7 linked regions of the Homo sapiens genome follow. The protein of the gene in region 2 purifies or fractionates together with the protein of the main gene of each other region. This does not show direct contact. Each region holds a gene or a part of one and is shown on either strand. Other genes may lie near its edges.

Region 1 (3,500 bases), on a different chromosome or scaffold from region 2:
CTTTTTGCCCAGGCTGGAGTGCAATGGCACGATCTTGGCTCACCATGATCTCGGCTCACTGGAACCTCTGCCTCCCAGGTTCAAGTTATTCTCCTGCCTCAGCCTCCTGAGTAGCTCCTCAGCCTCCCAAGTGATTCTCCTACCTCAGCCTCCCGGGATTACAGGCATGCGCCACCACGCCCAGCTAATTTTGTATTTTTAGTACAGATGGGCTTTCTCCATGTGGGTCAGGCTGGTCTCGAACTCTCGACCTCAGGTGATCTGCCTGCCTTGGCCTCCCAAAATGCTGGGATTACAGGTGTGAGCCATCGCACCCGTCTGTGATCATGTTTTTACAAAGTGGTATGATTTGTTTGGCTTGGCCTAAAATGAGGATGTTACCTTACAGATTTATTTTGTTTTACACTAACTCTGACTTAAACAATGAAAATTTTTAATATCTTCAGCTTTCTTGAACAAGCTAAATAAATCTTCATGTCTTAAATTTTATAAGGGTAAAGTACCTTATTGAAATCTTTCATTCAACAAATATTTGAATATCCACTACTTGTTAGGAACTGTGCTAATAAGATACAGTCTTTGCACTCAATGCATTGGCTCTTTCCACTCAGCATATAAATATGCTCAGATTTCTCACAACTAATAAATACAACACACTGGTCCATAAACCTGGATAATAGCTTTGTCGACTATTCGGAGGTAGAAATAAGAATGGAATCCTGCAATTACCTGCCCCCTATCCTACAAAGTAGATACACCTGTTATTTTTCTTGTAGTTCCTGAAGAGTGACTGACACTTAAATAATTACTAGATAGGTGCTATTTGCCTGCCTCATGCCATACTACCACCTCTTATCAGCTGGCAATGAAAGCCTACCTATTTTTAATGCAAAGGGGTTGAAATTAAAATGTTTTACTAAAACTTTGGTTTACCAGGCTACATGTTGTAATTATTTTTAAAATTCTAAAATTGTTATTTTGGGTTTGACTTTAATAACCAGATGATAAATGTGAATGTCTAAGACCACATGTGAAAGAAATAGTTAAAAAAAAAAAAAGGTGGGGCAAATTCACGGCAGATGGTAAGGCCAACCCTGCTTGATTTACAACCCTGCTTGTAAATGGAAACATTTGATTGTATGCAGTCTGAAGTTAAATCCTATTGATTGTGAAAAGGTAGCAGAGAGCCAAAAATTAAAAAGTCGAGGGCAGCAGAAACACTCCTCATCAGTTCACTGAGTGGCTTAATTGATAGCCAATGACTACAGGCACAATTAACAACCCAAGACCTAATAATGGAAAGGAAGTAAGAACAGAAACAACCTCCGAAACTAATGTTAACATATGGAGAAACTTCTACTGGTTGATAATTACTAGTGTGTACATAAAGCCTTGACAAGTTTCTTGACGCACACATGCTTACATCGGTGTTTAAATATAGCTGACACATATTTGAGTTCATAGTTTCTCATGTCCACATTCTCTAATAAGCTTCATTAGTACTTCATACCTTTTTTTTTAAATACAGTCTTGCGATGTCACCTAGGCTAGAGAGCAGTGGTGCGATCATAGCTCACTGCAGCCTTGAACTTCTGGACTCAAGTAATCCTCCTGCCTCAGCCACTTAAGTAGCTAAAACAGGCATGGGCCAGCACACCCAGCTAATACTTTTTTACTTTTTGTAAAGATGGGGGTTGGGGGTGGGTCTCACTACCCAGGCTGGTCTCAAATTCCTGGCCTCAAGTGATCCTCCCGCCTCATCCTCCAAAAGAGCTGAGATTACAGGCATGAGCCACCACACCCAGCCCCTAGTACTTTATATCTTTATCAGGTATGTGGCCTTCTACTGCTATTCTCTTTTTAAGTCTGTAATTTGTCTTATAAATTTATGGAGGGAGTGATGTTAACCCCAAACATAACTTGGTATCTTGCAAATAATAGGTATTAAGTGTTTATTAATGATATGAAATCCACCCTATAACCACACCTCAGCCCTTATCATTATGTGGAACTGCTCCTCCTTATCTCTCTGACTGGAATGCCCCATGGGCCAGTCCTTAAATTTCTTCTCTTCTCTAGCTACCCTCACTCCTCAGGTGATCTAATCTATACTGACAAGTCCCAAATGTAACCTGGACCATTCTTCTCTGAACTCTAGATTCCCATGTTCAACTGCTGACTTAATATCTCTATTACTTAGCATGTCTATTAGACATCTCAAAAACTTAACCAGTCTAGAACAGAACTCCTAAACTCTCCCCAAAAACCTGCTCTGCACCGTCCTCAAGTCTTCCTCATTTCTATTAATGACAACTCTATCCTTCCAGTTGCTCAAGTCAAAAACCTTGGAGTGATCCATTACTCTTTTCTTTTCACATTCTACAACCAATCCATCAGTAAATCTATCTGTATCAAAACATATCCAGTTAGAGTCACAGACAATCAGTATATTTATATTTTTATATACAGAAATACAGATTTTTACATAATTGTACATGGATACGTGGATTAGTATACATACATGCATTTCCTAGTTCTTTCCACTGAGAAAGTCTAGGAGCAATGATACTCCACAGCAATGAGCACACTTAGCATCCAGATCTTGGCTTCAAAATATCATCCTCCAATGAAAGGAACCAAGGTTCCTTAGAGAAATAATTGATTCTAGGGCTGAGGTAGGAAAAAAAAACAAGATGAACCTGAAGCATGTGGTAGTGTCAGAGAATAAAGAAGTGTGCATGTACATACGCATAAAAAAAGGATAGAAATATGCCAAAAAGACACAGAAGTAGACCTAAAAGAGATCCCAAGGGCCAAAACTGGAATAATTTGAGCAACAAAATAATGATAGCATTTAATTCTAACACTAAGAATAAAATAAATATCTATGAATTTGAACTGAGATAAATGATTAGATAGAAGGGAAAACCTTCCTTATAGAAGAATTCTAATTAATAAATGTAGAAAGAATGAGGAAAATTTAAAAAAGTACCTTCAGAAGCCACAGCAATAATTGCTGCAGGCAAGATCCACTAATGAATGCTAAAATTAGTGGGCAGAAACAGGATACTGGCAAAGCCTCAAAGTAGCTCTCTCAAAATATTTACCAATTACTGTGGTGGTTTTAATATATGTCCACAAATTCTTTTATACTTCTCCCTCCAGGAAGTGGAGTTTAATTTCCATCCCTTTAAGTGTGGGCTACACTTAGCAACCTGTTTCTAGTGCACGGACTATGGGAAAGGAAAAATAGTAACTTTACAGTGGACAAACCTAGCAGAAACCACCGTAACAGAGTGCTCACAAGTGATAAATTATTTGATATCATGCACCTCCTGTATGAAATAATAGGGGCACTTCACCTTTGCAGTACTCTCCCCCAAAATCCATAACCCCAATCTAATCATGAGAAAACATCAGACAAACCTAAACTGAAGAACATTCTACAAAATACTTGTGTCAAGGTTATAAAAGATAAGAAAAGACCAAGAAACTGCCAC
Region 2 (3,238 bases):
ATATTATGGATAAAGACTATCCGAGACTAATAGAAGAAGACTTCCCAGGAATTGGTGATAAAGTAGATGCTGTCTATGAGAAAAATGGTAAGTAGTTACATTGCACTGACTTTAAAGAGGAGCTTCTGTAGCCCCTCAAAACTCTTTTCTGTACAAAGCATTTTTATATAGGACCTAGATGTGTTAATAAATGTATGGCAGTTAAGGAATTAATTGTTCCTGTGTGACTACCTACAAAGACAGCAAACCAAAAAAAACATGGTTAGAATAAATAAGAATTTTACTTAATGATTGCTAATTCTATAAATACGAGATGCTAAACCTTCAACATTACCTTAATCTATGCTTAAAGATGCCAAAATGCAAGGATATTGCCAGAATTCAAACTGGCTGTGGAGTGGGAAGTAATTTATATATAAAGACTCATAACTACCTTAACTATATAGTGACTTTTTACTTTAATTATGTTCTCAACCTTTTTTTTTTTTTTTGACAGAGTCTCACTCTGTCACCCAGGCTGGAGTTCATTGTCGCAATCTGAGCTCGCTGCAACCTCCGCCTCCTGGGTTCAAGAGATTCTCCTGCCTCAGCCTCTGGAGTAGCTGGGATTACAGGTGCCTGCCACCATGCCTGGCTGATTTTTGCATTTTTAGTAGAGATGGAGTTTCGCCATGTTGGCTAGGCTGGTCTTGAACTCCTGGCCTCAAGCGATTCACCCGCCTCGGCCTCCCAAAGTGCTCAGATTACAGGCCTGACCTCACCGACCTCCTTTAACTATGAAAAGAGATATTATTGATAACTTATAACAAATAGGCTGGGTGCGGTGGCTCATGCCTGCAATCTGAGCACTTTGGGAAGCTGAGGTGGGCGGATCACTTGAGGTCAGGAGTTCAAGACCAGCCTGACCAACATGGCGAAACCCCATCTCTACTAAAAATCCAAAAAAAAAAAAAAAAAAAAAGCTGGGAGTGGTGGCATGCACCTGTAATCCCAGCTAGTCAGGAGGCTGAGGCAGGAGAATCACTTGAACTTAGGAGTCAGAGGTTGCAGTGAGCCAAGATCACTGCCACTGCACTCTAGCCTGGATGACAGAGTGAGACTCTGTCTCATATACGCACACAAAAATCGATAATCCAAGTAGCAAAACTGTGTAGGAGGATTCACACCTTAAAAGAACAACTAAAAAATAAAAATAAAAAAATAAAAAATTTAAAAAGGAACAACTATTAAAGAACTAATAGAGTTTAAAAAGAAAAAGTTTGAAATTCCTACAAATGGGATCTAAGAGATTGAACCATTAATATTAACTGGATTAAAACCTTATTATTTTCAAACTCTGAAATTGTCTTTATGCTTTTTCTTATAGGTTATATCTATTTTTTCAACGGACCCATACAGTTTGAATACAGCATCTGGAGTAACCGTATTGTTCGCGTCATGCCAGCAAATTCCATTTTGTGGTGTTAAGTGTCTTTTTAAAAATTGTTATTTAAATCCTGAAGAGCATTTGGGGTAATACTTCCAGAAGTGCGGGGTAGGGGAAGAAGAGCTATCAGGAGAAAGCTTGGTTCTGTGAACAAGCTTCAGTAAGTTATCTTTGAATATGTAGTATCTATATGACTATGCGTGGCTGGAACCACATTGAAGAATGTTAGAGTAATGAAATGGAGGATCTCTAAAGAGCATCTGATTCTTGTTGCTGTACAAAAGCAATGGTTGATGATACTTCCCACACCACAAATGGGACACATGGTCTGTCAATGAGAGCATAATTTAAAAATATATTTATAAGGAAATTTTACAAGGGCATAAAGTAAATACATGCATATAATGAATAAATCATTCTTACTAAAAAGTATAAAATAGTATGAAAATGGAAATTTGGGAGAGCCATACATAAAAGAAATAAACCAAAGGAAAATGTCTGTAATAATAGACTGTAACTTCCAAATAAATAATTTTCATTTTGCACTGAGGATATTCAGATGTATGTGCCCTTCTTCACACAGACACTAACGAAATATCAAAGTCATTAAAGACAGGAGACAAAAGAGCAGTGGTAAGAATAGTAGATGTGGCCTTTGAATTCTGTTTAATTTTCACTTTTGGCAATGACTCAAAGTCTGCTCTCATATAAGACAAATATTCCTTTGCATATTATAAAGGATAAAGAAGGATGATGTCTTTTTATTAAAATATTTCAGGTTCTTCAGAAGTCACACATTACAAAGTTAAAATTGTTATCAAAATAGTCTAAGGCCATGGCATCCCTTTTTCATAAATTATTTGATTATTTAAGACTAAAAGTTGCATTTTAACCCTATTTTACCTAGCTAATTATTTAATTGTCCAGTTTGTCTTGGATATATAGGCTATTTTCTAAAGACTTGTATAGCATGAAATAAAATATATCTTATAAAGTGGAAGTATGTATATTAAAAAAGAGACATCCAAATTTTTTTTTAAAGCAGTCTACTAGATTGTGATCCCTTGAGATATGGAAGGATGCCTTTTTTTCTCTGCATTTAAAAAAATCCCCCAGCACTTCCCACAGTGCCTATTGATACTTGGGGAGGGTGCTTGGCACTTATTGAATATATGATCGGCCATCAAGGGAAGAACTATTGTGCTCAGAGACACTGTTGATAAAAACTCAGGCAAAGAAAATGAAATGCATATTTGCAAAGTGTATTAGGAAGTGTTTATGTTGTTTATAATAAAAATATATTTTCAACAGACAATTGCTATATGGTACATTGTCTTTAGGTATAATTTCAATCTTTCCTCACCCAAAGAGGGTTCATTGCCAATATTTTTATTTTTGGAGACAGAGTCTCTCTCAGTTGCCCAGGCTTGAATGCAGTGGTGTGATTCCAGCTCACTGCAACCTCCACTTCCCGAGTTCAGGCAATTCTCCTGCCTCAGCCTCCCAAGTAGCTGGGATTACAGGTGAGCGCCACCATGCCCGGCTAGTTTTTGTATTTTTAATAGAGATGGGGTTTCACCATATTGGCCAGGTAGTCTTGAATTCCTGATCTCAGGTGATCTGCCTGCCTCAGCTTCCCAAAGTCCTGGGATTACAGGTGTGGGCCACTGCACTGGACCCTTCTTTTTTTTTCTTTTTAAGAAAAGATGTTTAGGCCAGGTTCAGTGGCTCATGTTTGCACTCCCAGCACTTTGGGAGACCAATTGTTTGGGCCCAGGATTTCAAGATCAGCCTGGGCACCATGGTGAAACA
Region 3 (3,500 bases), on a different chromosome or scaffold from region 2:
CACCTGCCCCACAACACTTTGAATGAAAAGCCTGGGCCAGGCATTTTGCCTCCAGATCAACCCCCAGCCCCTCAAAGGCAGTTGTGCAGGGCTGTAGAAGACACCAGAAGCTGAAGGAACCAAAAAAGGCAAAGCAGAACTACTTGTTCCCAGGGTCAAACTGCGAACCTGAGTTCCCTGAAGAGGAGGAAGTGAAGAAAAGAGAACATGTGCTAAAGAAAACACAGATCTGGACTCAAGGACTCATGTCAAGAGCCTAGGCTATCTTGCCAAACCCCACACGGACACTGTCCCGACTCCCCATTCCCAGCAATTCAGACATGACCATGTGCCCACAGGTGTTCTGCCCAGCCTCCTCCGACCCAGCCCCTCCCACCCTCCCACCCGCTACTTACAGTCCCACAGACTCTGACATCATGTAGCCGGCCCCATTCATCCTCGTAACTGTCCACCATCATGACGCTGTCGTCCTCACGGCCCAGCTCAGCGTTGAGGTGCAGCCGCACCTCCTCACCCAGGGAGTGCATGCCCACTGCTGGGAACAGTCCATCTGGGGACATGGGCATGATGGTAGAGCCCACCTGCAGTGGGGGGAAAGACGGAGCTGCCACCCGGCCTGCTTTTCCATAGCTCACCTAATTCTCACAAGGGTACTTTTAAGATGATGCAACCAGCCGGGCGTGGTGGCTCACGCCTGTAATCCCAGCACTTTGGGAGGCCGAGGTGGGCGGATCACAAGGTCAGGAGATTGAAACCATCCTGGCTAACACGGTGAAACCCCGTCTCTACTAAAAATACAAAAAATTAGCCGGGCGTGGTGGCGGGCGCCTGTAGTCCCAGCTACTCGGGAGGCTGAGGCAGGAGAATGGCGTGAACCCGGGAGGCGGAGCTTGCAGTGAGCCGAGATGGTGCCACTGCACTCCAGCCTGGGGGACAGAGCGAGACTCCATTTCAAAAAAAAAAAAAAAAAGATGATGCAACCAATAATTATCACACACACTGACAGATTAAAAAAAAAAAAGCAACCCAGAGGTGCAGAAAAGTTTCCAAATGTGCTAAGTACTCCTGGCTAAGCAAGGTATGTACAGAGCTAGAAGACAAACACAAGTCTCCTGACTTGCTGCCAAATACTTTCAGTACGTGTGCTGGACAGGAGAGTGCCGAGGCGCAGATGCTAAGGCAGCAGGACCCCTTGGCCAAGGCCTGAGAAACCAATTTCCCAATGTGGGAGATGGAGTTGGAGAGAAGGGAGAGAGCTGTGTGTCTCTCTCTACTATTGGCTCCTGTCCCATCTCCTCACCACGCCTAGTCTCTCTACGAACAGGATAGTGAAAGAGACGTGAAACAAGGAAAACAGGACACAGAAAGGACATATCCCCAAAAGTGCTCAAGTCAAAACCCAAAGAGGACCTCCAGCTTACATGGCCAGGCCATAATCTTCCCCTCTCTTTTATCTGCTCAAAACCTTCCCCCAAATCACCCAATTCTGTTCCCCACAATTCCTGCTCATCCTCTGCTCCACTAACTTGCCTCTCTCTGCCTGTCATCTGGGCAATGTCCCAGCTTCCTCTGGCCATGGGAAGTATCTTCTCCTACACGCAAGAGACTTCAGGAGAATCTGAGGCTGGACTGGAGGAGATGGGAACTCAGTGCAAGGGTCCCTGGGCAAGCCCCAGCCAGCAGACTCTTCCTAATCACTCCCCACAAATCCTTGGGCAGATTTCAGCCACGTAAATCCCACCACTATTTCCCACTCACCCGCTTCCCATTTTTGGTGAAGAAGATCTGGGCGGTCTGCACATCAAAGGACACAGGCTCAATGCCACAGCCAATCCGGTCCCCGGAGTTGCACTTTGACCCAAACTGGCGGCCCTTGGCTCGGCCATTGTACAGCCTACAGACAGAGTAGTACAGACACAGGACCCGAGCCTGGCCTCCCAACTTCTCCCCAGCACTGACAGCAGAGGCCTCATCCTCATCTTGCTGCTCCTGGTCATTCTGTGATGGTACCCACTTACGTCCTGGCGTGAGCATCACCCTCCTCTAGTCTGTAAGCCTTCAAGGGTGCTGCCAGGCCACTTCCCTGTCCTGACCAGAAAAGTCTATGAAACACCCAATGGGAAAAGCCAGCCCAAGGTAGTTCTTCAGATCTAAGATTCCCAAATTCATAGGAAAAGGGCCGGGTTGCACAGGAGCCAACTCACTTGCCATCATCAGCATGGTAGGCTACAGAGTCAGGCAACCAGCCAGGCTGGTGATCCAAGCTGTAGTACTGAGGGACCAGCCCCACAGCAATGGTGCCCCGGACTCCACTGTCCACAATAGACACCTGGAGAGAAGAAAGCAGGGCACAGTCAGCAGGGCTGGGAAATGGGATGAATTGCTGGGGGTGGGGGAAGGGGACTTAGAGATTAAAGGGCGCTGAGGCTCAAAAAGAAAAAGGACATGGGAATCAGGAAAAAAGATAAGATACTCAGAGGGGGCAATTGGTGAGAGTGGGTGCCTATTTCACTTAGAAAATTACTCCAAAGCTTTGGAGAAAGATAGGACTCACGTCCCTATATGGTGGGTTTGGGTTAGGGGACATGAGTCAAGTCTGGGATATGGGTCAAAGTCTACCTAGCTAAGGGGTAGGAGAGCAGAAGGGACAGGGTGACAGGTTTCCAGGGCACCTATCTCTCAGATGAGGGGCCATGCTATCCTGCACCTATTTCCCAGCCAACAGGACAGCCCTGATGGAAAATTAAAAGGCCCAGGTCATACATCTAGTAAAGGAGCTTCTTGGGGCTTAATGATCTCACCCCCAAGCTCACCCCCTGCTCTGCCCACCCACTGCCTTGATCACCTCAAAATAATTGCTGTCCTTGGTCAGGGGTCGAGAAGCCACGTAGCAGCCAACTTCACCAGAGTTTCCATGATAACTGAAGGAGGAATGAGGGGGGAATTCCATTAGCAGCCTAGCCCAAGAGTAGGGGGAGGGCCTCAGCTTCTCCCACCCTTACCCTGCAAGGGCCAGCACACAGGAGAATCCATCAGGCTGCACTTCAGTACATCGGCAGACATCAGAACCAGATACTTAAGGTCACCTCACCCTACTCCTCTCGCAGCCTCCAGCTGGAATCCAACCCGTACCAGACCAGTGCAAGCCTGGTTTCTTCATTTCCAGGAGGAAAAGAATGTAGAGCCTCCCTTACTTGCCTAAGAGAGGTCTCACAACCCTGTGTAACCTCAATCTCTCATGCTGCAGCTTCAGCCCTTTTCCTCTGGCTCTGTCCTCAGTGGAGCTGGAGAATAATGGCTGGTCTCTATCCTCTTTACCAAAGCCCTTCATCGATTGGAAGACAGTGATTCAGTTCCCACTCCTCAGCTTTCTTGCCTCTAGTTAAACAGTACTACTTTCTTCCCCCTTCAGTGGAACTCTGTGAGAGCATGGGCTCAGAAGGAGTCAGGGAAGGGGTTCAAGCCAGAAAAGAGGGAGGAAACACACACAAGCTAAGGGG
Region 4 (3,500 bases), on a different chromosome or scaffold from region 2:
GTGAGGTAGCTAAGAGGCCATTTAGCTCCTTTTTTTTTTTTTTGACACTTATCTCCTTTTTTTTTTTTTTTTGACACGAAGTCTCACTCTGTTGCCGAGGTTGGAGTCCAGTGGCATGATCTGAACTCACCACAAACTCTGCCTCCTGGGTTCAAGCGATTCTCTTGCCTCAGCCTCCTGAGTAGCTGGGATTACAGGTGCCCGCCACCATGTCCAGCTAATTTTTGTATTTTTAGTAGAGATGGGGTTTCACCATGTTGTCCAAGCTGGTCTCAAACTCCTGACCTCAGGCGATCCAGCTGCCTCAGCCTCCCAAAGTGCTGGGATTACAGGCATGAGCCACTGTGCCTGGCCTATCTCCATTTTAGTAGATACTTTTCCATACTGTATACGTGAGGAAGGCAACTACTATGACTAAAACCCAAATTATAGTTTAATTAAAATAAATTAAAAATTTGATATTTTTGCCAGGCACGGTGGCTCATGCTTGTAGTCCCAGCACTTTGGGAGGCCAAGGTGGGTGGTTCATCTGAGGTCAGGAGTTCAAGACCAGCCTGGCCAACATGGTAAAACCCCATTTCTACTAAAAATATAAAAATTAGCCAGGTGTGGTGGCACATGCCTGTAATTCCAGCTACTCGGGAGGCTGAGGCATGGGAATTGCTTGAACCTGGGAGGTGGAAGTTGCAGTGAGCTGAGATCACACAACTGCACTCCAGCCCGGGTGACAGAGCAAGACTCTTCCTCAAAAACAAAAAATAAAAATAAAAAATTGATATTTTAACAAACATAAATGGAAAAGAAAAAAAACCCAAATACAGGTACAAAATTTATTCAAAGATTCATTGTAGTTTTCTGCATTTTACTATTATCTACGGCAACCATATACTAGACTTATAATTTTAAAAGTTATCAGGCTGGGTGCGTTGGCTCACGCCTGTAATCCCAACACTTTGGGAGGCCAAGGAGGGTGGACATTTGAGGTCAGGAGTTCGAGACCAGTCTGGCCAACATGGCGAAACCCTGTCTCTACTAAAAATAAAAGTTAGTTGGGCAGGGTGGCGCACGCCTGTAATCCCAGCTACTCGGGAGGCTGAGGCAGGAGAATCGCTTGAACTTGGGAGGCAGAGGTTGTGGTAAGGTGAGATCACACCACTGCACTCCAGCCTGGGTGACTGAGACTCTGTCTCAAAAAAAAAAAGTTATCGGCCAGGCGTGGTGGCTCACACATGTAATCCCAGCGCTATGGGAGGCCGAGACAGGCGGATCATGAGGTCAGGAGATCGAGACCATCCTGGCTAACACGGTGAAACCCCATCTCTACTAAAAATACAAAAAAATTAGCCGGGTGTGGTGGCGGGCACCTGTAGTCCCAGCTACTCGGGAGGCTGAGGCAGGAGAATGGCGTGAACCCAGGAGGCGGAGCTTGCAGTGAGCCGAGATTGCACCACTGCACTCCAGCCTGGGTGACTGAGCGAGACTCCATCTCAAAAAAAAAAAAAAGTTATCACATAGTTGCACAACTTTGTGAATACACTAAAAACCAATGAACTGTATACTTCAAATGGGTGAAATGTATGGTATGTGAATTATCTCAATAAAGCTACTAAAAAACATTATTTAAAAAGAATTCTTCTACATCTAAGGCCTGAGCAGGACTTGCTTTAACGCAACACCCCTGCAGCAGCATAACGTGGTCTATTTATTGCTGGACCAGGAACAGGCAACTCTGGGGAGGGTATGTGCTCATCGAGGCCACGCCATCTGCAGAGGTTCTGTTAAGAGCCTAGGGCTCCCCTTGGGTTAGCCCCCATTGAAGGGCCATTGTCAGTGCCCCCTCCTCAAAGGAGCCTGACTGCTGCTCTCGACTCACGGGGGCTTCCTAAAGGAAGGGCTACTTGTTCCCGATGGAGAGCTCAATGCCATTAGCATTTCTGTATACTTCTTCAAGATTTCGAATGCTACTTACCATTTCTGTGCAGCTTGTTATCACCCAAATGACTGGTTTTGGAGTCAGCGTTAACATTCCAATGCCTTACACACTTGCTGGTTTCCTTATGAAATTCAGTGTTTATGTTCTGCACCCAGTTAACTAATGTATTTGGCTACCTGAGAGTTGAGCATATTCTGTTTTAGTATCTTTTCTCCTACCACAAACCCAAAGGCTGGAATCCTGTATTTTGCTATCACTTCTACTCCTACTTGATTTGATACAATTCTCGAGTTAAAGAAGAAATACCTTTGGTCTCAACAACAAACTTCATAGGAGATCCTTAATCAGTTAAGCTTCTAATAGAAAAGCAGATAGGAACCAGGAGCCAGAAACTTGTCTTAAGACTGAGGCTCATCAGGACTTTACAAGAGAATCACATATTAGTACCATATTTGAGTCTGTCATTTTCTCTAACATTCTTTCCTTACCCCCAGAACAAGTCCACTGATTGTCTTAGACAGAGCAGGGATTTTTTTTTTTTTTTTTTTTTTTGAGACAAAGTTTCGCTCTTGTTGCTCAGGCTGGAGCGCAATGGTGCAATCTTGGCTCACTGCAACCTCCGCCTCCCGGGTTCAAGCGATCCTCCTGCCTCAGCCTCCTGAGTAGCTGGAATTACAGGTGCCTGCCAACATGCCCAGCTAATTTTTATATTTTTAGTAAAGATGGGGTTTCACCATGTTGACCAGGCTGGTCTTGAACTCCTGACCTCAGGTGATCCATCCACCTCAGCCTCCCAAAGTGCTGGGATTACAGGTGTGAGCCACCACGCCCGACCCCAATTTTTTTTTTTTTTAAAGAGAGAGGATCTTCCTAGGTTGCCCAGGCTGGAGTGCAGTGGCTATTCACAGGCATGATCACAGCACATTGCTGCCTTCAAATCCTAGCCTCAAGCGATACTCCAGCCTCAGTCTTCTGAGTAGCTAGGACTACAGGCACACAACACCATGCCTGGCTAATTTATTAAAAATTATTTGTAGCGACAAGGTCTTGCTATGCTGTCCAGGCTGGTCTTGAATTCCTGGCCCCAAGTGATCCTCCTGCTTTGACCTCCCAAAATGTTGGGATTACAGGTGTGAGCCACAGCACCCAGCCTGGAGCAGGAATTTTTAATTCTCAACTTCGCAGATGAGGACACTGAAAGAAGTTAAAGGTCACAGATGCAGGAAGGGGCAGAAGAAGAATGCCACCCCAGCTCCTTTCCACTGCCCCATCCAGCACAGCACTCTGTCCAAATACTGCTGGATCATCAGACCATGAGAGCTGACAAAGGCCAGAGGCCCCCTGCAGCTAGGTCCAGCCTGGGCATTCCCAGCATTCGGAGGGCCAGTCCAGCTACCTCCTTCCACTTCCTGTTTCCTTGCTAATGGAAAAGAAAGGATGCTCCTCCTTGCTTTCTAAAGTCCCAGGAGTTCTGAGGTTTAAAAACTTGGTTCAAAGAAAATAAAATACTCTGCACAGCAGGTACTTCTGCTGGAAACTAGATGGTCACTTCCCCTTTTTTTTCTTT
Region 5 (3,500 bases), on a different chromosome or scaffold from region 2:
CAAGAATTGAGCAACTACTAATTTCTCTAAACTTGGTTCCTTTCTAGAGCCAAAGGATAAGTTAAGTCTCTGTAGATATCAAAACTGCACAAGATTTTTATCAGCTAATCTTAACCAACTGAGTACGTCACTAAAGAGACCTTTAAAATATAACTGTTTTTAGCTTATTAACTGTAGAGTTGCCTGTGGCTGTTGTTTTGCTTTCCCTTCACAAAATGGTATCAAATGCCTTACTGATAAATATCTGAAACAAACAAAAAAGCCCTAAAATTACCTATGCCTCCCTCATCTTATGAGGTTAAAAAAAACCCACAGAATTCACTCCTAGAAATGGCATATATATATATATATATATATTTTTTTTTTATTGGTAGCATTTTAAAGTCTGTTAAGAGATTAGTTATTTGTTTGTTTATACTCCAAAATATACTCAATTTCAAACATACCTATCATTTATTTGCAAGTATCATCATCAATCAAGTAAGCAATAACAATGCACAAGGCTTAGAAGCAGATTTGTCATATTTCAAAAAGTGGAGCTCAAAGCAATTCATTTTAAGTTAACTTTAAATTTATAAACTCAAGGCAGTACAAGTCTGGTTTTTTTTTAGCTACCCAATATCTGATAAATATGAATACCTAATAATAGACGATAATAACAGTGATAAAATTAAAATGAGAGCAAACCACTGAATAATCTATTATTTCTTATTTCTTCCTATAAAGGATGCACCAAATTCAATTCCACAAGTTTTATATTGTGCAACTATTCTGTTGTTTGTCACTATGAAAGTTACTGAGGAAGATTAAAAAAAAAAGTCATACTATAAGCAACAACAGAGTCCCTTTTTAGTTTAAATAACAAAACACATCAGACCTTAAAAATCCAAATGAGTGTTACCCTCCAAAGCCAATACCCTGGGAGATAATACAGATGTTCAACTATTCACATTTCTTTCAAAGCCAGACTACAGGTCACACAAGAAAATCAGCAATTATATAGCATTCACACCACAAGGAAGTTGTTTTCAATACAAATCTCCTTGTTCCTTATATATAATTGTTTACTAATAACATTTTTTATTATCTAGCCCCCCTTCTCCTCAAAACTACACTGTTAATGAATATTGGCTACCAATATCAAAATATTATTTCTGATACAGTTTAATGCTAGTTAATCATTTGTAAGTGCATGGTTTCCCAAGATGACAACTTAAATTTATATGTGAGTTCAAGTACATTTCAATTTTTTAAGTCTCATTACATCATGGATCTATTTTACATGAAAGAAGTCCCTAATCCAAAGAGATAACAATCTTTAACCGAGTAAAAAACCAAGAAAAAAAATTACAGTAATAACTGGCATAAGCCTATATTATTTTTGAGAAAAAGTTTCCCGTATGTACTTGAATTTACCCTAATAACCAATCTAAGTTTCATACCATTTACAGCCTTTTCAATCAACTCTTCGCAAGCATCAAAATCACCCTTCAACACCAGCTTGTCATGAATATCTGTTAACATGGGATGTTCCAGTGCAATCTTGGTTTTCTTTTGCAGTGACTCAAAAGCTTCTGTATAGTTGTGTTGTCTGAAGTGTTTTAGGCAAAGGCGAATAGCTTCCTGTTCACGGTACTACTAGAACACAGAGTAAGTATGGAAAGAAGAGATTTGGTTAGATGATACTGTAGGAAACAATAACAACAGTAAAAATAACTAATCTACACTGAGCATTTATTAACACTATGTGCCAAGCAGTTTACTAACCTGATTCATTAGGTATCATTATTTGGCTCTTTTAACTAGCAAAACTAAAGCTTGGCCTGTTCCAATAACTTGCTCAAGGTCACAAAATATGTAGCCAAAAGTTATTAAACCAAACCTAATTCCAGAGCCTCAACTTTGAAGAAAGGGAGAACATCTATTTCTTAAACTCCACTTAATACTGTAAAAATTATAACTCCATAGCATCTATTAATCCCATTACAATGCAGGTACTGAGAGCACAAAAGAACATTAAATAATCCACATAAATTATATTATGCTATTTTTGGTTTTTAAAAATAAACTATTACTTGAATGACAAGTATCAAGTATACAGATATTTCAAATTTACAAACACATTTTATGACTCAAAAATCATCAAAAAGAGACATTTAATCTTTTTTTTTTTCTTTCTTTTTTTGAGACAGGGTCTTGCTCTGTCTCCCAGGCTGGACTGTAGCGGCATAATCTCAGCTCACTGCAACCTCCGCCTCCCAGGTTCAAGCAATTCTGCCTCAGCCTCCTAAGTAGCTGAGCTTACAGGCACGCGCTACCACGCCCAGCTAATTTTTGTATTTTTAGTAGAGTCGGGGTTTCACCATGTTGGTCAGGATGGTCTTGAACTCCTGACCTCAGGCAATCTGCCCACTTTGGTCTCCCAAAGTGCTGGGATTACAGGTGTGAGCCACTGCGCCCGGCCCAATTTAATTGTTTTCTAAGCCTGAACTACCTCATCTATTAAGCAGCTATAAAGTAGACATCTCAATTAACTGGAATCCAAAAAGCAGGCACTTAATTTATTAAAATTTTCCCCTAATAGGATAGATGCCAAAAATACAATCTTATAAAAAGGATTTTTTTAAAAAAATCTCAACTTCAGGAATATGTTCTGGGACTACCTCAAACTTCCTAAGTATACCACTATTCAAACAAACAGATGACATGGAAGCCTGCATGATAATCAAACAACAATGATTTACTTATAGGCATGACCCTTTAATAAGGCAAGAAAATAATGTGTTTAGGAAGATGTATAAGATTTGAAACAAATCAGTTGATAGCTGACTTAACTAATAAAAGGTCATTAAACACCTAATCCTTACACGTTATAATTAACTATAATTAATTAACAACTTAATTATAATTAGTTAACTATAATTAACTTACTCTTGGCCTCTAAAAAAGACTTATCATAACTACCATGTAACAATATATATTACAGTTATATTAAACAGCAGTATTTTTTAACCCTGTTGACTACTTTAGGAGTCTAAATCACATCCACATCTTAAATTTTCCATTAGGCTGCAAAACTATCCCACTAAAAACTATGTTTTAAGTATTTATATGAATACAAGTGAAAAAACAAAATTCAGAGTCAAATGGGTATAATAACATAAAAGCAGACTGTGGAGCCAAACTGCCTGAATTCATATACTGGCTCAAACACTTTACAATTGTGTGATCCTAGGCAAACTATTTAATCTCTCTGTTCTTCATTTCTTCATCTATAAACTAATGGGGATAATAAGTGCACCTGTCTCATAGAGTGATAATGACTAAGTGAGTTATCAGGATTCCTTAAAAGCTGGCAGACTGGAAGTGCTTAATAAAATGTTAGCTAACTGTTGTTATTATTATTTTGAATATTTTAAATTATTCTCAATGAAGATAAGAGATTGACATATTTCTCCTTTTATAGGCATTAAAGTCAGGATTTAAAACACAGTCCTACC
Region 6 (3,500 bases), on a different chromosome or scaffold from region 2:
AAGTAGATATCTTATTTTTCAGGCTATTAACTATATCAGAAAAATAGCTTACTTGATCAAAAAGCAATCAATTAAATGATGCCCCAAATATGAGAGATACTTAGTTTCTAATCAGGCATATTAAAAGAGAGATAGAATATAGGTATATTTAGATATACTTAATTATGTCAATAAAATTAGACAATACAAGTATAAAAGTTCTATAACAATGATATATTTTCAGAAATCACATATTCATAAGACATTTGAGGTATAATATGTAGACAAAGAAAAAAATTAACCAAATTTGTATTAGGTGAATTTGGAATATTAGTCAATGTTACAGAAATCATTACATTTACTGAAAATGCAGTCTTCTGATAAAACAATATCACTTCCGTAGGAAAAAGCCTATAGAAATCAATCTAATCTAATTTAATTTGCAATTCTGAACAGGAAAATAGTAAAATCAAAGGAGATGCCCTGTGTGTATGGGCATGCCACTGTTTCTGCTGTGTGAGACAGACACATTAATGGCACACCCTTTGGGTAACACATAATATTTTTTAAAACATGCTACATGAAAGTGAAATAGCACTAAATGACCTGGCCATCATAATATTAGAATTTATCTGTTTTTCACAAAACCCTGTACTGATAATGTACTTTAAAAATGACATTCTAAGATACTATAAATTCCCTATCCTTTGACAAAATTCATAGAACAGCTCAAATAAAGTGATCTGGTTCATTAAAGAAAAAAGCACTTATACGTACATTCAACAGTATCATTTACCTGGGTGAGCTTGTCTCATGTGATAGGTCACCGGGTATGGATGTGACTCCCCACACAGTTCACAGATGGTATCTTTCTCTGGTCCTCCTACTGCCAGCTGGGCCATCTCTCCAAACAAATTACCCCTGGGCCTAACTTCTGCCTTTTCTTTTTTCTTTTTTTCCTTTTTGGACTTCTTATTCTCTTTCTCACACTCTTTCTTTTTAAGAACTGCACAGGAACCAGGACTTGGAAAAATCATATTCTGGGAAGCAGCTTTGATAGTAGCCAAAGAGATGTCTTCCCAAAAAGCCACTAAATGTTGTAAAGTTAAGGGAAGAGGAGACTTAGACTTCATTGTGTTATGCATGGACATTTCAAAAGTGGTCTCGGTTTTCCCATCCTCACATTTTTCATGCAGAGGTGGTTCCTTAAGCATAGACAATACCTTGTTTTTGTTGATGCTACCCATCTTAGATATATCTGGTCCATGGGGTGCAATATTAAACATATTCAGTGCAGATGATATTTCTAATGAATGTCTATTTTTTAACTTGGTTTCTTTTTCCTCTGTAGGTTGTTGGCTATTTAAACTACTCCTTATAGGAGCATGTTCTTTGGAAAGTTCAGGATGAAACTTTAGGAAAGAAGAACAAGCCATTGCATCATGTACTATGCCTTCATGCCAGAGGAAGGAAGCAAACACAGCTCTGGCACATTCGGCCACAGAAGGAGACATGGCTTGCTTGGCTGGCTCTAAAGGCTTGGATCCATCTCCTTTGAAAAGAAAACTCGATTTTTCTTTTTTGGGCCTGGTGTGTCTATTAGCACATTTTCGACTTATTTTGGGAGATGCTCTCATTTCCTGTTCATCTTTCAGTGGTGCTTTTCCAATGCTAAAATGAACTTTATTTGAACCTTCATCCACACTCTTAAATTCACTGCTGTCATCGCAGGTGCTGTCTGTTAGACTATTTGTTTTTAAAGTACTTGAGGTGCAGACTTCGACCACCTCACTGTGGAGGTTTTCCTGTACCACATGGGGAGAGGGAGCTCTATTTTCAGATCCAGGGGAATCTGTAGAATCCTTTGGTACTGATTTTGGTTTTGGTGACGTTGACCGTCCTCTCAAAGGTTCTGTGAGGGGCATTTTCTTCTTGCGGAGGGTATCTGGATCAAGTGTGTAAGAGTCTGATTTAGAACGTTCCCGAGGAGGATCAAGCTTTGTCTTAACAGGAGCAGTACTTTTTTGAGGTAGATTTTTATCATGTGGTGAGGAGGAGCGTGGAGAACTAGCACCCGATGGGCTAGACCTATTGGCTGGGAGAGTCTTTGGCTTAGGAGATGACAACCGAGAACCTGGTCCTGGGGATTCAGCTCTGGAGCTAGAAGGCATCCTCCCATCAGATTTCAATGTCTGCAAGGTGTTATGGTTGGGGGATAATGACCTACTGTGGGAATCTGACCTCAACTTTGCAGCATCAGATTTTAAGATGAGGGATTCACTAGCAGATAAACTTTCTGTGCCCCTTGGCTTCTTCTGATCAGCAGTAGTCCGGCTCATACGTCCATCAGGTTTAAGCGATCTGCTGTGTTTAGAGGACAGCTCTGATTTTCCTGATGTAGAGGCTGGTTTAGAAGATGTTGAGATGTTTCCTCGATCACCTGTATGGTCCATTTTACAGTGAAACTTATTAATAAAATTATAACTTACTGATAATTTAGCCACTAAACACTGAAATAAAAAAACATAGCTACAAAATTTATATTGTTTGTCATACATACTAAAATACTTGAAGAATAAAGGAAAGAAGGGGGAAATATTTCTAATAAAATTTCTACACATCATTACACAACATTACCACCAAAAACTATTTTCATGGACGCAAAACAACAGGTTGAACAAATCCAGTGTGAACTATCAGTGATATCTCAACCTCTGCCCTAGTGCAATAACTAGTTAGAATTTAAATTCAGTGAGGGACTAGAAAGAGACAGAAATTAATCTTTTGGGGAATAAGAAATTATTTAATGTGAAAACTTGTATTTTAAATGTAGAGTAGAGCTAAATTTCCAGCAGAGTGATACCTCGCATCCTTAGGGCAACGGTATGGGTTTTGTTGAATTAGAGAACTGAATTTATGCATAGACACAATTATAATTTTTAAGTGTATGCATACAATTAGGCTAACAAAGAGTTGCTTAAGAGGCACTCTGTTTTATGATCAGATTAGACTAGTTTACAATGAGCACATGAATGCCCTGAAGCTGTTATTTAATTATTTATAAACAGGTTACACTCCAAAAGTTCAGGAAGCTTAGCTGCTTAGAACTCAGAGCCTGTGTTCCCTTGGAAACCACAGAAACGGTGGATCCTCAGAATGAGTGGTAAAAGTCTGAACTGTGGACCCTCAAAACAAGGAGTCAGGAGAATGACAGAAAAACAGGATGAAAAGAAGAATCACCTCCCTTTTCTAAGGCAAAGCATTAGATGTTTCTGCATGGACATTAATTGTTTTTAGCACCCTGCCTTCATTCAGTGTCTCTCCTTCATTCTATTTTATGCTTTTCTTTGAGGCATTAGAGCCAGGCTGTCTGTGACCCAAGTAAATGGTACAAACTTCAACATCACCTTTCCTCCTTAAAATAAAAACTTCTACTCTTAGTGCAAGTGATACCAGTTAGTTGTTAGGAGAAAAGCAATCTGACTGAAGGGTTTCAAGTGGTATAAAAAACTGAAAATCCA
Region 7 (3,500 bases), on a different chromosome or scaffold from region 2:
GTCCAGGGGCTGTAGTTTGCCAGTTCATGCTCTATATCAAGCTTGTCCAACCCACAGCCTGCATGCAGCCCAAGATGGCTTTGATTGTGACCCAATGCAAATTCATAAACTTTCTTAAAACATTATGAGATTTTTTTGCAATTTTTTTTTTTAAAGCTGATTAGCTATCTTTAGTGTTAGTGTATTTTATGTGTGGCCCAAAACAATTCTTCCAGTGTGGCCCAGGGAAGCCAAAGGATTGAATACCCCTGCTCTAGATGGTCATCTTTCCTGTATCACGGCACATCCAAATCTTTTTCTAGGCTCCTTACCCCAGTAAATACAGCTCTGTGCATGCACATGTTTGTGGATTCAAAGCCCCTGGAGGCATCAGTGAGTTCTGCAGAGACAGGCAAATTCAGGCAAACTGCTGTATTTTTTATTCTTTTCATCTTAGGCTTAAGGCATACTCATTTGACTCAAGTTAAAATTATAGTTCCTATTTGTAAAAGCCGTATTTATTACTACAGACTTAACAGGGTGTAATATACAATAATCTGATAAGAAATTGGAAGTCTTTAAAGAACTATAGATTGCATATTTCAGAGCCACCTGTGGCGTGAAAGTTCCAGCCTCAGTAATGACCTCAAGTCAGGCATACTAAAGCAGAAGAACCAAAAATACATCCCATTTTCTGAGGTATAAAAGCTGGAAGGATTTTTTTCATGGAATGTTTCCTCACTATCCTTTTAGGCTCTGCGGATACTATAAGGAGAAGGGTGTGTAGACTTTATCACTAAAAACGAAGTCCTGTCGCCACCCTTGTAATGATTTTGTAAGTGAAAGTCCTTAAGTCTGTTTTTCAGAGAACATGCTCTATGGTTTTAGTCCTTTTAAATTTATTGAGATTTGTTTTATTCTAATATGTGGTCTGTCTGGATGAGTGTCCCATGTGTGCTTGAAAAAATGTATATTCTTTTGCTGAATGGAATATTCTGTAAATGAGAATTAGGCAAAGTCGATTGATAATGTTCAAGTCTTACATAGTGTTACTGATTTTTTTCTACCCTTCTATTATTTACTAAGAGGAGTATTGAAATCTCCATCTATCCTTGCTAATTTGTCTTTCTTCTTTTAGTTCTCTCAGTGTTTGCTTCATGTATTTTGGAGCTCTGTTACTACTGGTGCATATACATTTCTAATTGTTTTATCTCCCTGCCTGATTTATTCTTTTATTATGAAATGACTTCCTTTGACTCTAGTAATCCTCTGTCAATCTGTCTTTGTATTTAAAGTGGAGCTCCTACACAGCACATAGTTGGATCTTGATTTTTATCTAACCCAGTCTCTGTCTCTGACTTTTTTTTTTTGAGACGGAGTTTTACTCTTGTTGCCCAGGCTGGAAGTGCAATGGCGCAATCTCGGCTCACCGCAACCTCCACCTCCCAGGTTCAAGTGATTCTCCTGCCTCAGCCTCCCGAGTAGCTGGGATTAGAGGCATGCGCCTCTAAACCACGCCCGGCTAATTTAATTTTATATTTTTTTAGTAGAGAAGGGGTTTCTTTTTTTTTTTTTTCTCCTTTTGAGACAGAGTTTCACTCTTGTTGCCCATGCTGGAGTGCAATGGCATGATCTCAGCTCACCGCAACCTCTGCCTCCCGGGTCCCGGTTCAAGCAGTTCTCCTACCTCAGCCTCTTGGGTAGCTGGGATTACAGGCATGCGCCACCACACCCAGCTAATTTTTGTATTTTTAGTAGAGACGGGGTTTCACCACGTTGGCCAGGCTGGTCTCGAACTCCTGACCTCGTGATCCGCCTGCCTCAGCCTCCCAAAGTGCTCGGATTACAGGCATGAGCCACCATGCCTGGCGAGACGGGGTTTCTCCATGTTGGTCAGGCTGGTCTCGAACTCCCAACCTCAAGTGATCCACCTGCCTTGGCCTCCCAGTTGCTGGGATTACAGGTTGTGAGCCACTGCGCCCAGCTTCGGTCTCTGACTTTTAAGTGTTTAGTTCATTTACCTTTAATGTAAGTGTTGGATTGCTTGATGTTGTCCTTATCTCTGCCTCTAAAACTATGTTCTTGTTTTTTCCCCCAACCTTGTTTCTCTCTAATCTTTGCATTAGATAATTTCTTTTCCTTTTTTTTTTTGAGATAGGGTCTCGCTCTGACACCTCGGCTGGAGTGGTGCAGTGGTGCAGTGGCGTGATGATCTTGGCTCACTGAAACCTCTGCCTCCCAGGCTCAAGTGATCATCCCACCTCAGCCTCCAGAGTAGCTGGGACTACAGGTGCTCCCCACCAATGCCTGGCTAATATTTGTATTTTTTGTAGAGACAGGGTTTTGCCATTTTGCCCAGGCTGGTTTCAAACTCCTGAGCTCAAGCAGCTGCCTGCCTCAGTCTCCCAAAGTGCTGGGATTATAGGCATGAACCACTGGGCTTGACCTAAATTAGATAATTTCTGTTCTGTCTTCAAGGTTATAAATTTTTTTCTTTTGCCATCTCACCTCTGCTATTGAACTGGGCTAGTAAATTTTGCTTATTGTACACTTCAGCTTTAGAATTTCCTTTTTTTTCTTTTTCCTTTTTTTTTTTTTTTTTTTTTTTTTTTTGAGACAGTCTCACTCTGTCGTCAGGCTGGAGTGCAGTGGCACGATCTGGGCTCACTGCAGCCACCGACTCCCGGGTTCAAGTGATTCTTCTGCCTCAGCCTCCTGAGTAGCTGGGACTACAGGTGTGTGCCACCATGCCCAGCTAATTTTTGTATTTTTAGTAGAGATGAGGTTTCACCATGTTGGCCAGGATGGTCTCGATCTCTTGACCTCGTGATCCGCCCGCCTCGGCCTCCCAAAGTGAAAGTACTGGGATTACAGGCGTGAGCCACCACACTGGGCCTGGTTCTTTTTTAGAGTAAATTTCCTTTTCGAGATTCCTTATTTATTTACTTATACTATATTTGTAAAAAAATCTTTGGACATATTCATAACAGCTGCTTTGAAGTCTTTACCAAATCCAACACTTAGGACCACTTGGATTCAGCTTCTGTTGATTGCTTTTTTCCCCTAAATATGAATCACGCTTTCCTGTTTCTTTTCATATCTAGTAATTTTTTTAACTGAAACCTAGATGTGTAGATAATATGTAGTAGTAACTCCTGAATGTTTTGTTTCTAGAAACTGCTTTATTCTCTGAAAAGTATAGGTTTTCTTGTTTTAGTAGGCAGTTAACTTGCCTATACTCAAACTATAAACTCTGTCTCATGTGATGTGTGGCAGCTAATGTCTGCTCAGTTTTTTCAGCTTTGCTGCTTTTTTAGTCCTGGAGGTTTACCCTGTGCCTTTGTAATATAGTGGTCACTCAGGGATTTGGGAAGTTAATTCTCAGATTTTGGGGTTCATCCTTTCTGTGGTTCTGTTGCTTCTGGAGTTCCTCCTCTAAGTTTCCAGTTGCTCTGCCATCTCCCCACGTTTTACCCCAGCACCTAAAGATGGTAAGACTTCGCTTTCTCCACCCTGGGCTT

Evidence for each region.
Region 1: the proteins of MMP13 (region 2) and PEAK1 purify together in Homo sapiens (affinity purification with mass spectrometry; one large-scale study listed by BioGRID and IntAct). This does not show direct contact.
Region 3: the proteins of MMP13 (region 2) and SPRYD3 purify together in Homo sapiens (affinity purification with mass spectrometry; one large-scale study listed by BioGRID and IntAct). This does not show direct contact.
Region 4: the proteins of MMP13 (region 2) and GID4 purify together in Homo sapiens (affinity purification with mass spectrometry; one large-scale study listed by BioGRID and IntAct). This does not show direct contact.
Region 5: the proteins of MMP13 (region 2) and MKLN1 purify together in Homo sapiens (affinity purification with mass spectrometry; one large-scale study listed by BioGRID and IntAct). This does not show direct contact.
Region 6: the proteins of MMP13 (region 2) and MYCBP2 purify together in Homo sapiens (affinity purification with mass spectrometry; one large-scale study listed by BioGRID and IntAct). This does not show direct contact.
Region 7: the proteins of MMP13 (region 2) and FBXO45 purify together in Homo sapiens (affinity purification with mass spectrometry; one large-scale study listed by BioGRID and IntAct). This does not show direct contact.

The regions. Positions count from the first base shown.
Region 1 is NC_000015.10:77,410,105-77,413,604, forward strand, and holds part of PEAK1 (inactive tyrosine-protein kinase PEAK1), read right to left. Parts: intron 1-3,500. UniProt on the Homo sapiens protein: Probable catalytically inactive kinase. Scaffolding protein that regulates the cytoskeleton to control cell spreading and migration by modulating focal adhesion dynamics. Acts as a scaffold for mediating EGFR signaling.
Region 2 is NC_000011.10:102,942,495-102,945,732, reverse strand, and holds the end of MMP13 (collagenase 3 preproprotein), read left to right. Parts: coding exon 1-87; intron 88-1,366; coding exon 1,367-1,467; 3' UTR 1,468-2,738; downstream 2,739-3,238. UniProt on the Homo sapiens protein: Plays a role in the degradation of extracellular matrix proteins including fibrillar collagen, fibronectin, TNC and ACAN.
Region 3 is NC_000012.12:53,072,891-53,076,390, forward strand, and holds part of SPRYD3 (SPRY domain-containing protein 3), read right to left. Parts: intron 2,922-3,500; coding exon 2,846-2,921; intron 2,330-2,845; coding exon 2,205-2,329; intron 1,895-2,204; coding exon 1,759-1,894; intron 582-1,758; coding exon 396-581; intron 1-395.
Region 4 is NC_000017.11:18,045,908-18,049,407, reverse strand, and holds part of GID4 (glucose-induced degradation protein 4 homolog), read right to left. Parts: intron 1-3,500.
Region 5 is NC_000007.14:131,397,376-131,400,875, reverse strand, and holds part of MKLN1 (muskelin), read right to left. Parts: coding exon 3,500-3,500; intron 1,639-3,499; exon of another isoform or gene 1,636-1,638; coding exon 1,443-1,635; intron 1-1,442. UniProt on the Homo sapiens protein: Component of the CTLH E3 ubiquitin-protein ligase complex that selectively accepts ubiquitin from UBE2H and mediates ubiquitination and subsequent proteasomal degradation of the transcription factor HBP1.
Region 6 is NC_000013.11:77,096,595-77,100,094, forward strand, and holds part of MYCBP2 (E3 ubiquitin-protein ligase MYCBP2), read right to left. Parts: intron 2,420-3,500; coding exon 776-2,419; intron 1-775. UniProt on the Homo sapiens protein: Atypical E3 ubiquitin-protein ligase which specifically mediates ubiquitination of threonine and serine residues on target proteins, instead of ubiquitinating lysine residues.
Region 7 is NC_000003.12:196,578,660-196,582,159, forward strand, and holds part of FBXO45 (F-box/SPRY domain-containing protein 1), read left to right. Parts: intron 1-3,500. UniProt on the Homo sapiens protein: Component of E3 ubiquitin ligase complex consisting of FBXO45, MYCBP2 and SKP1. Functions in substrate recognition but also plays an important role in assembly of the complex.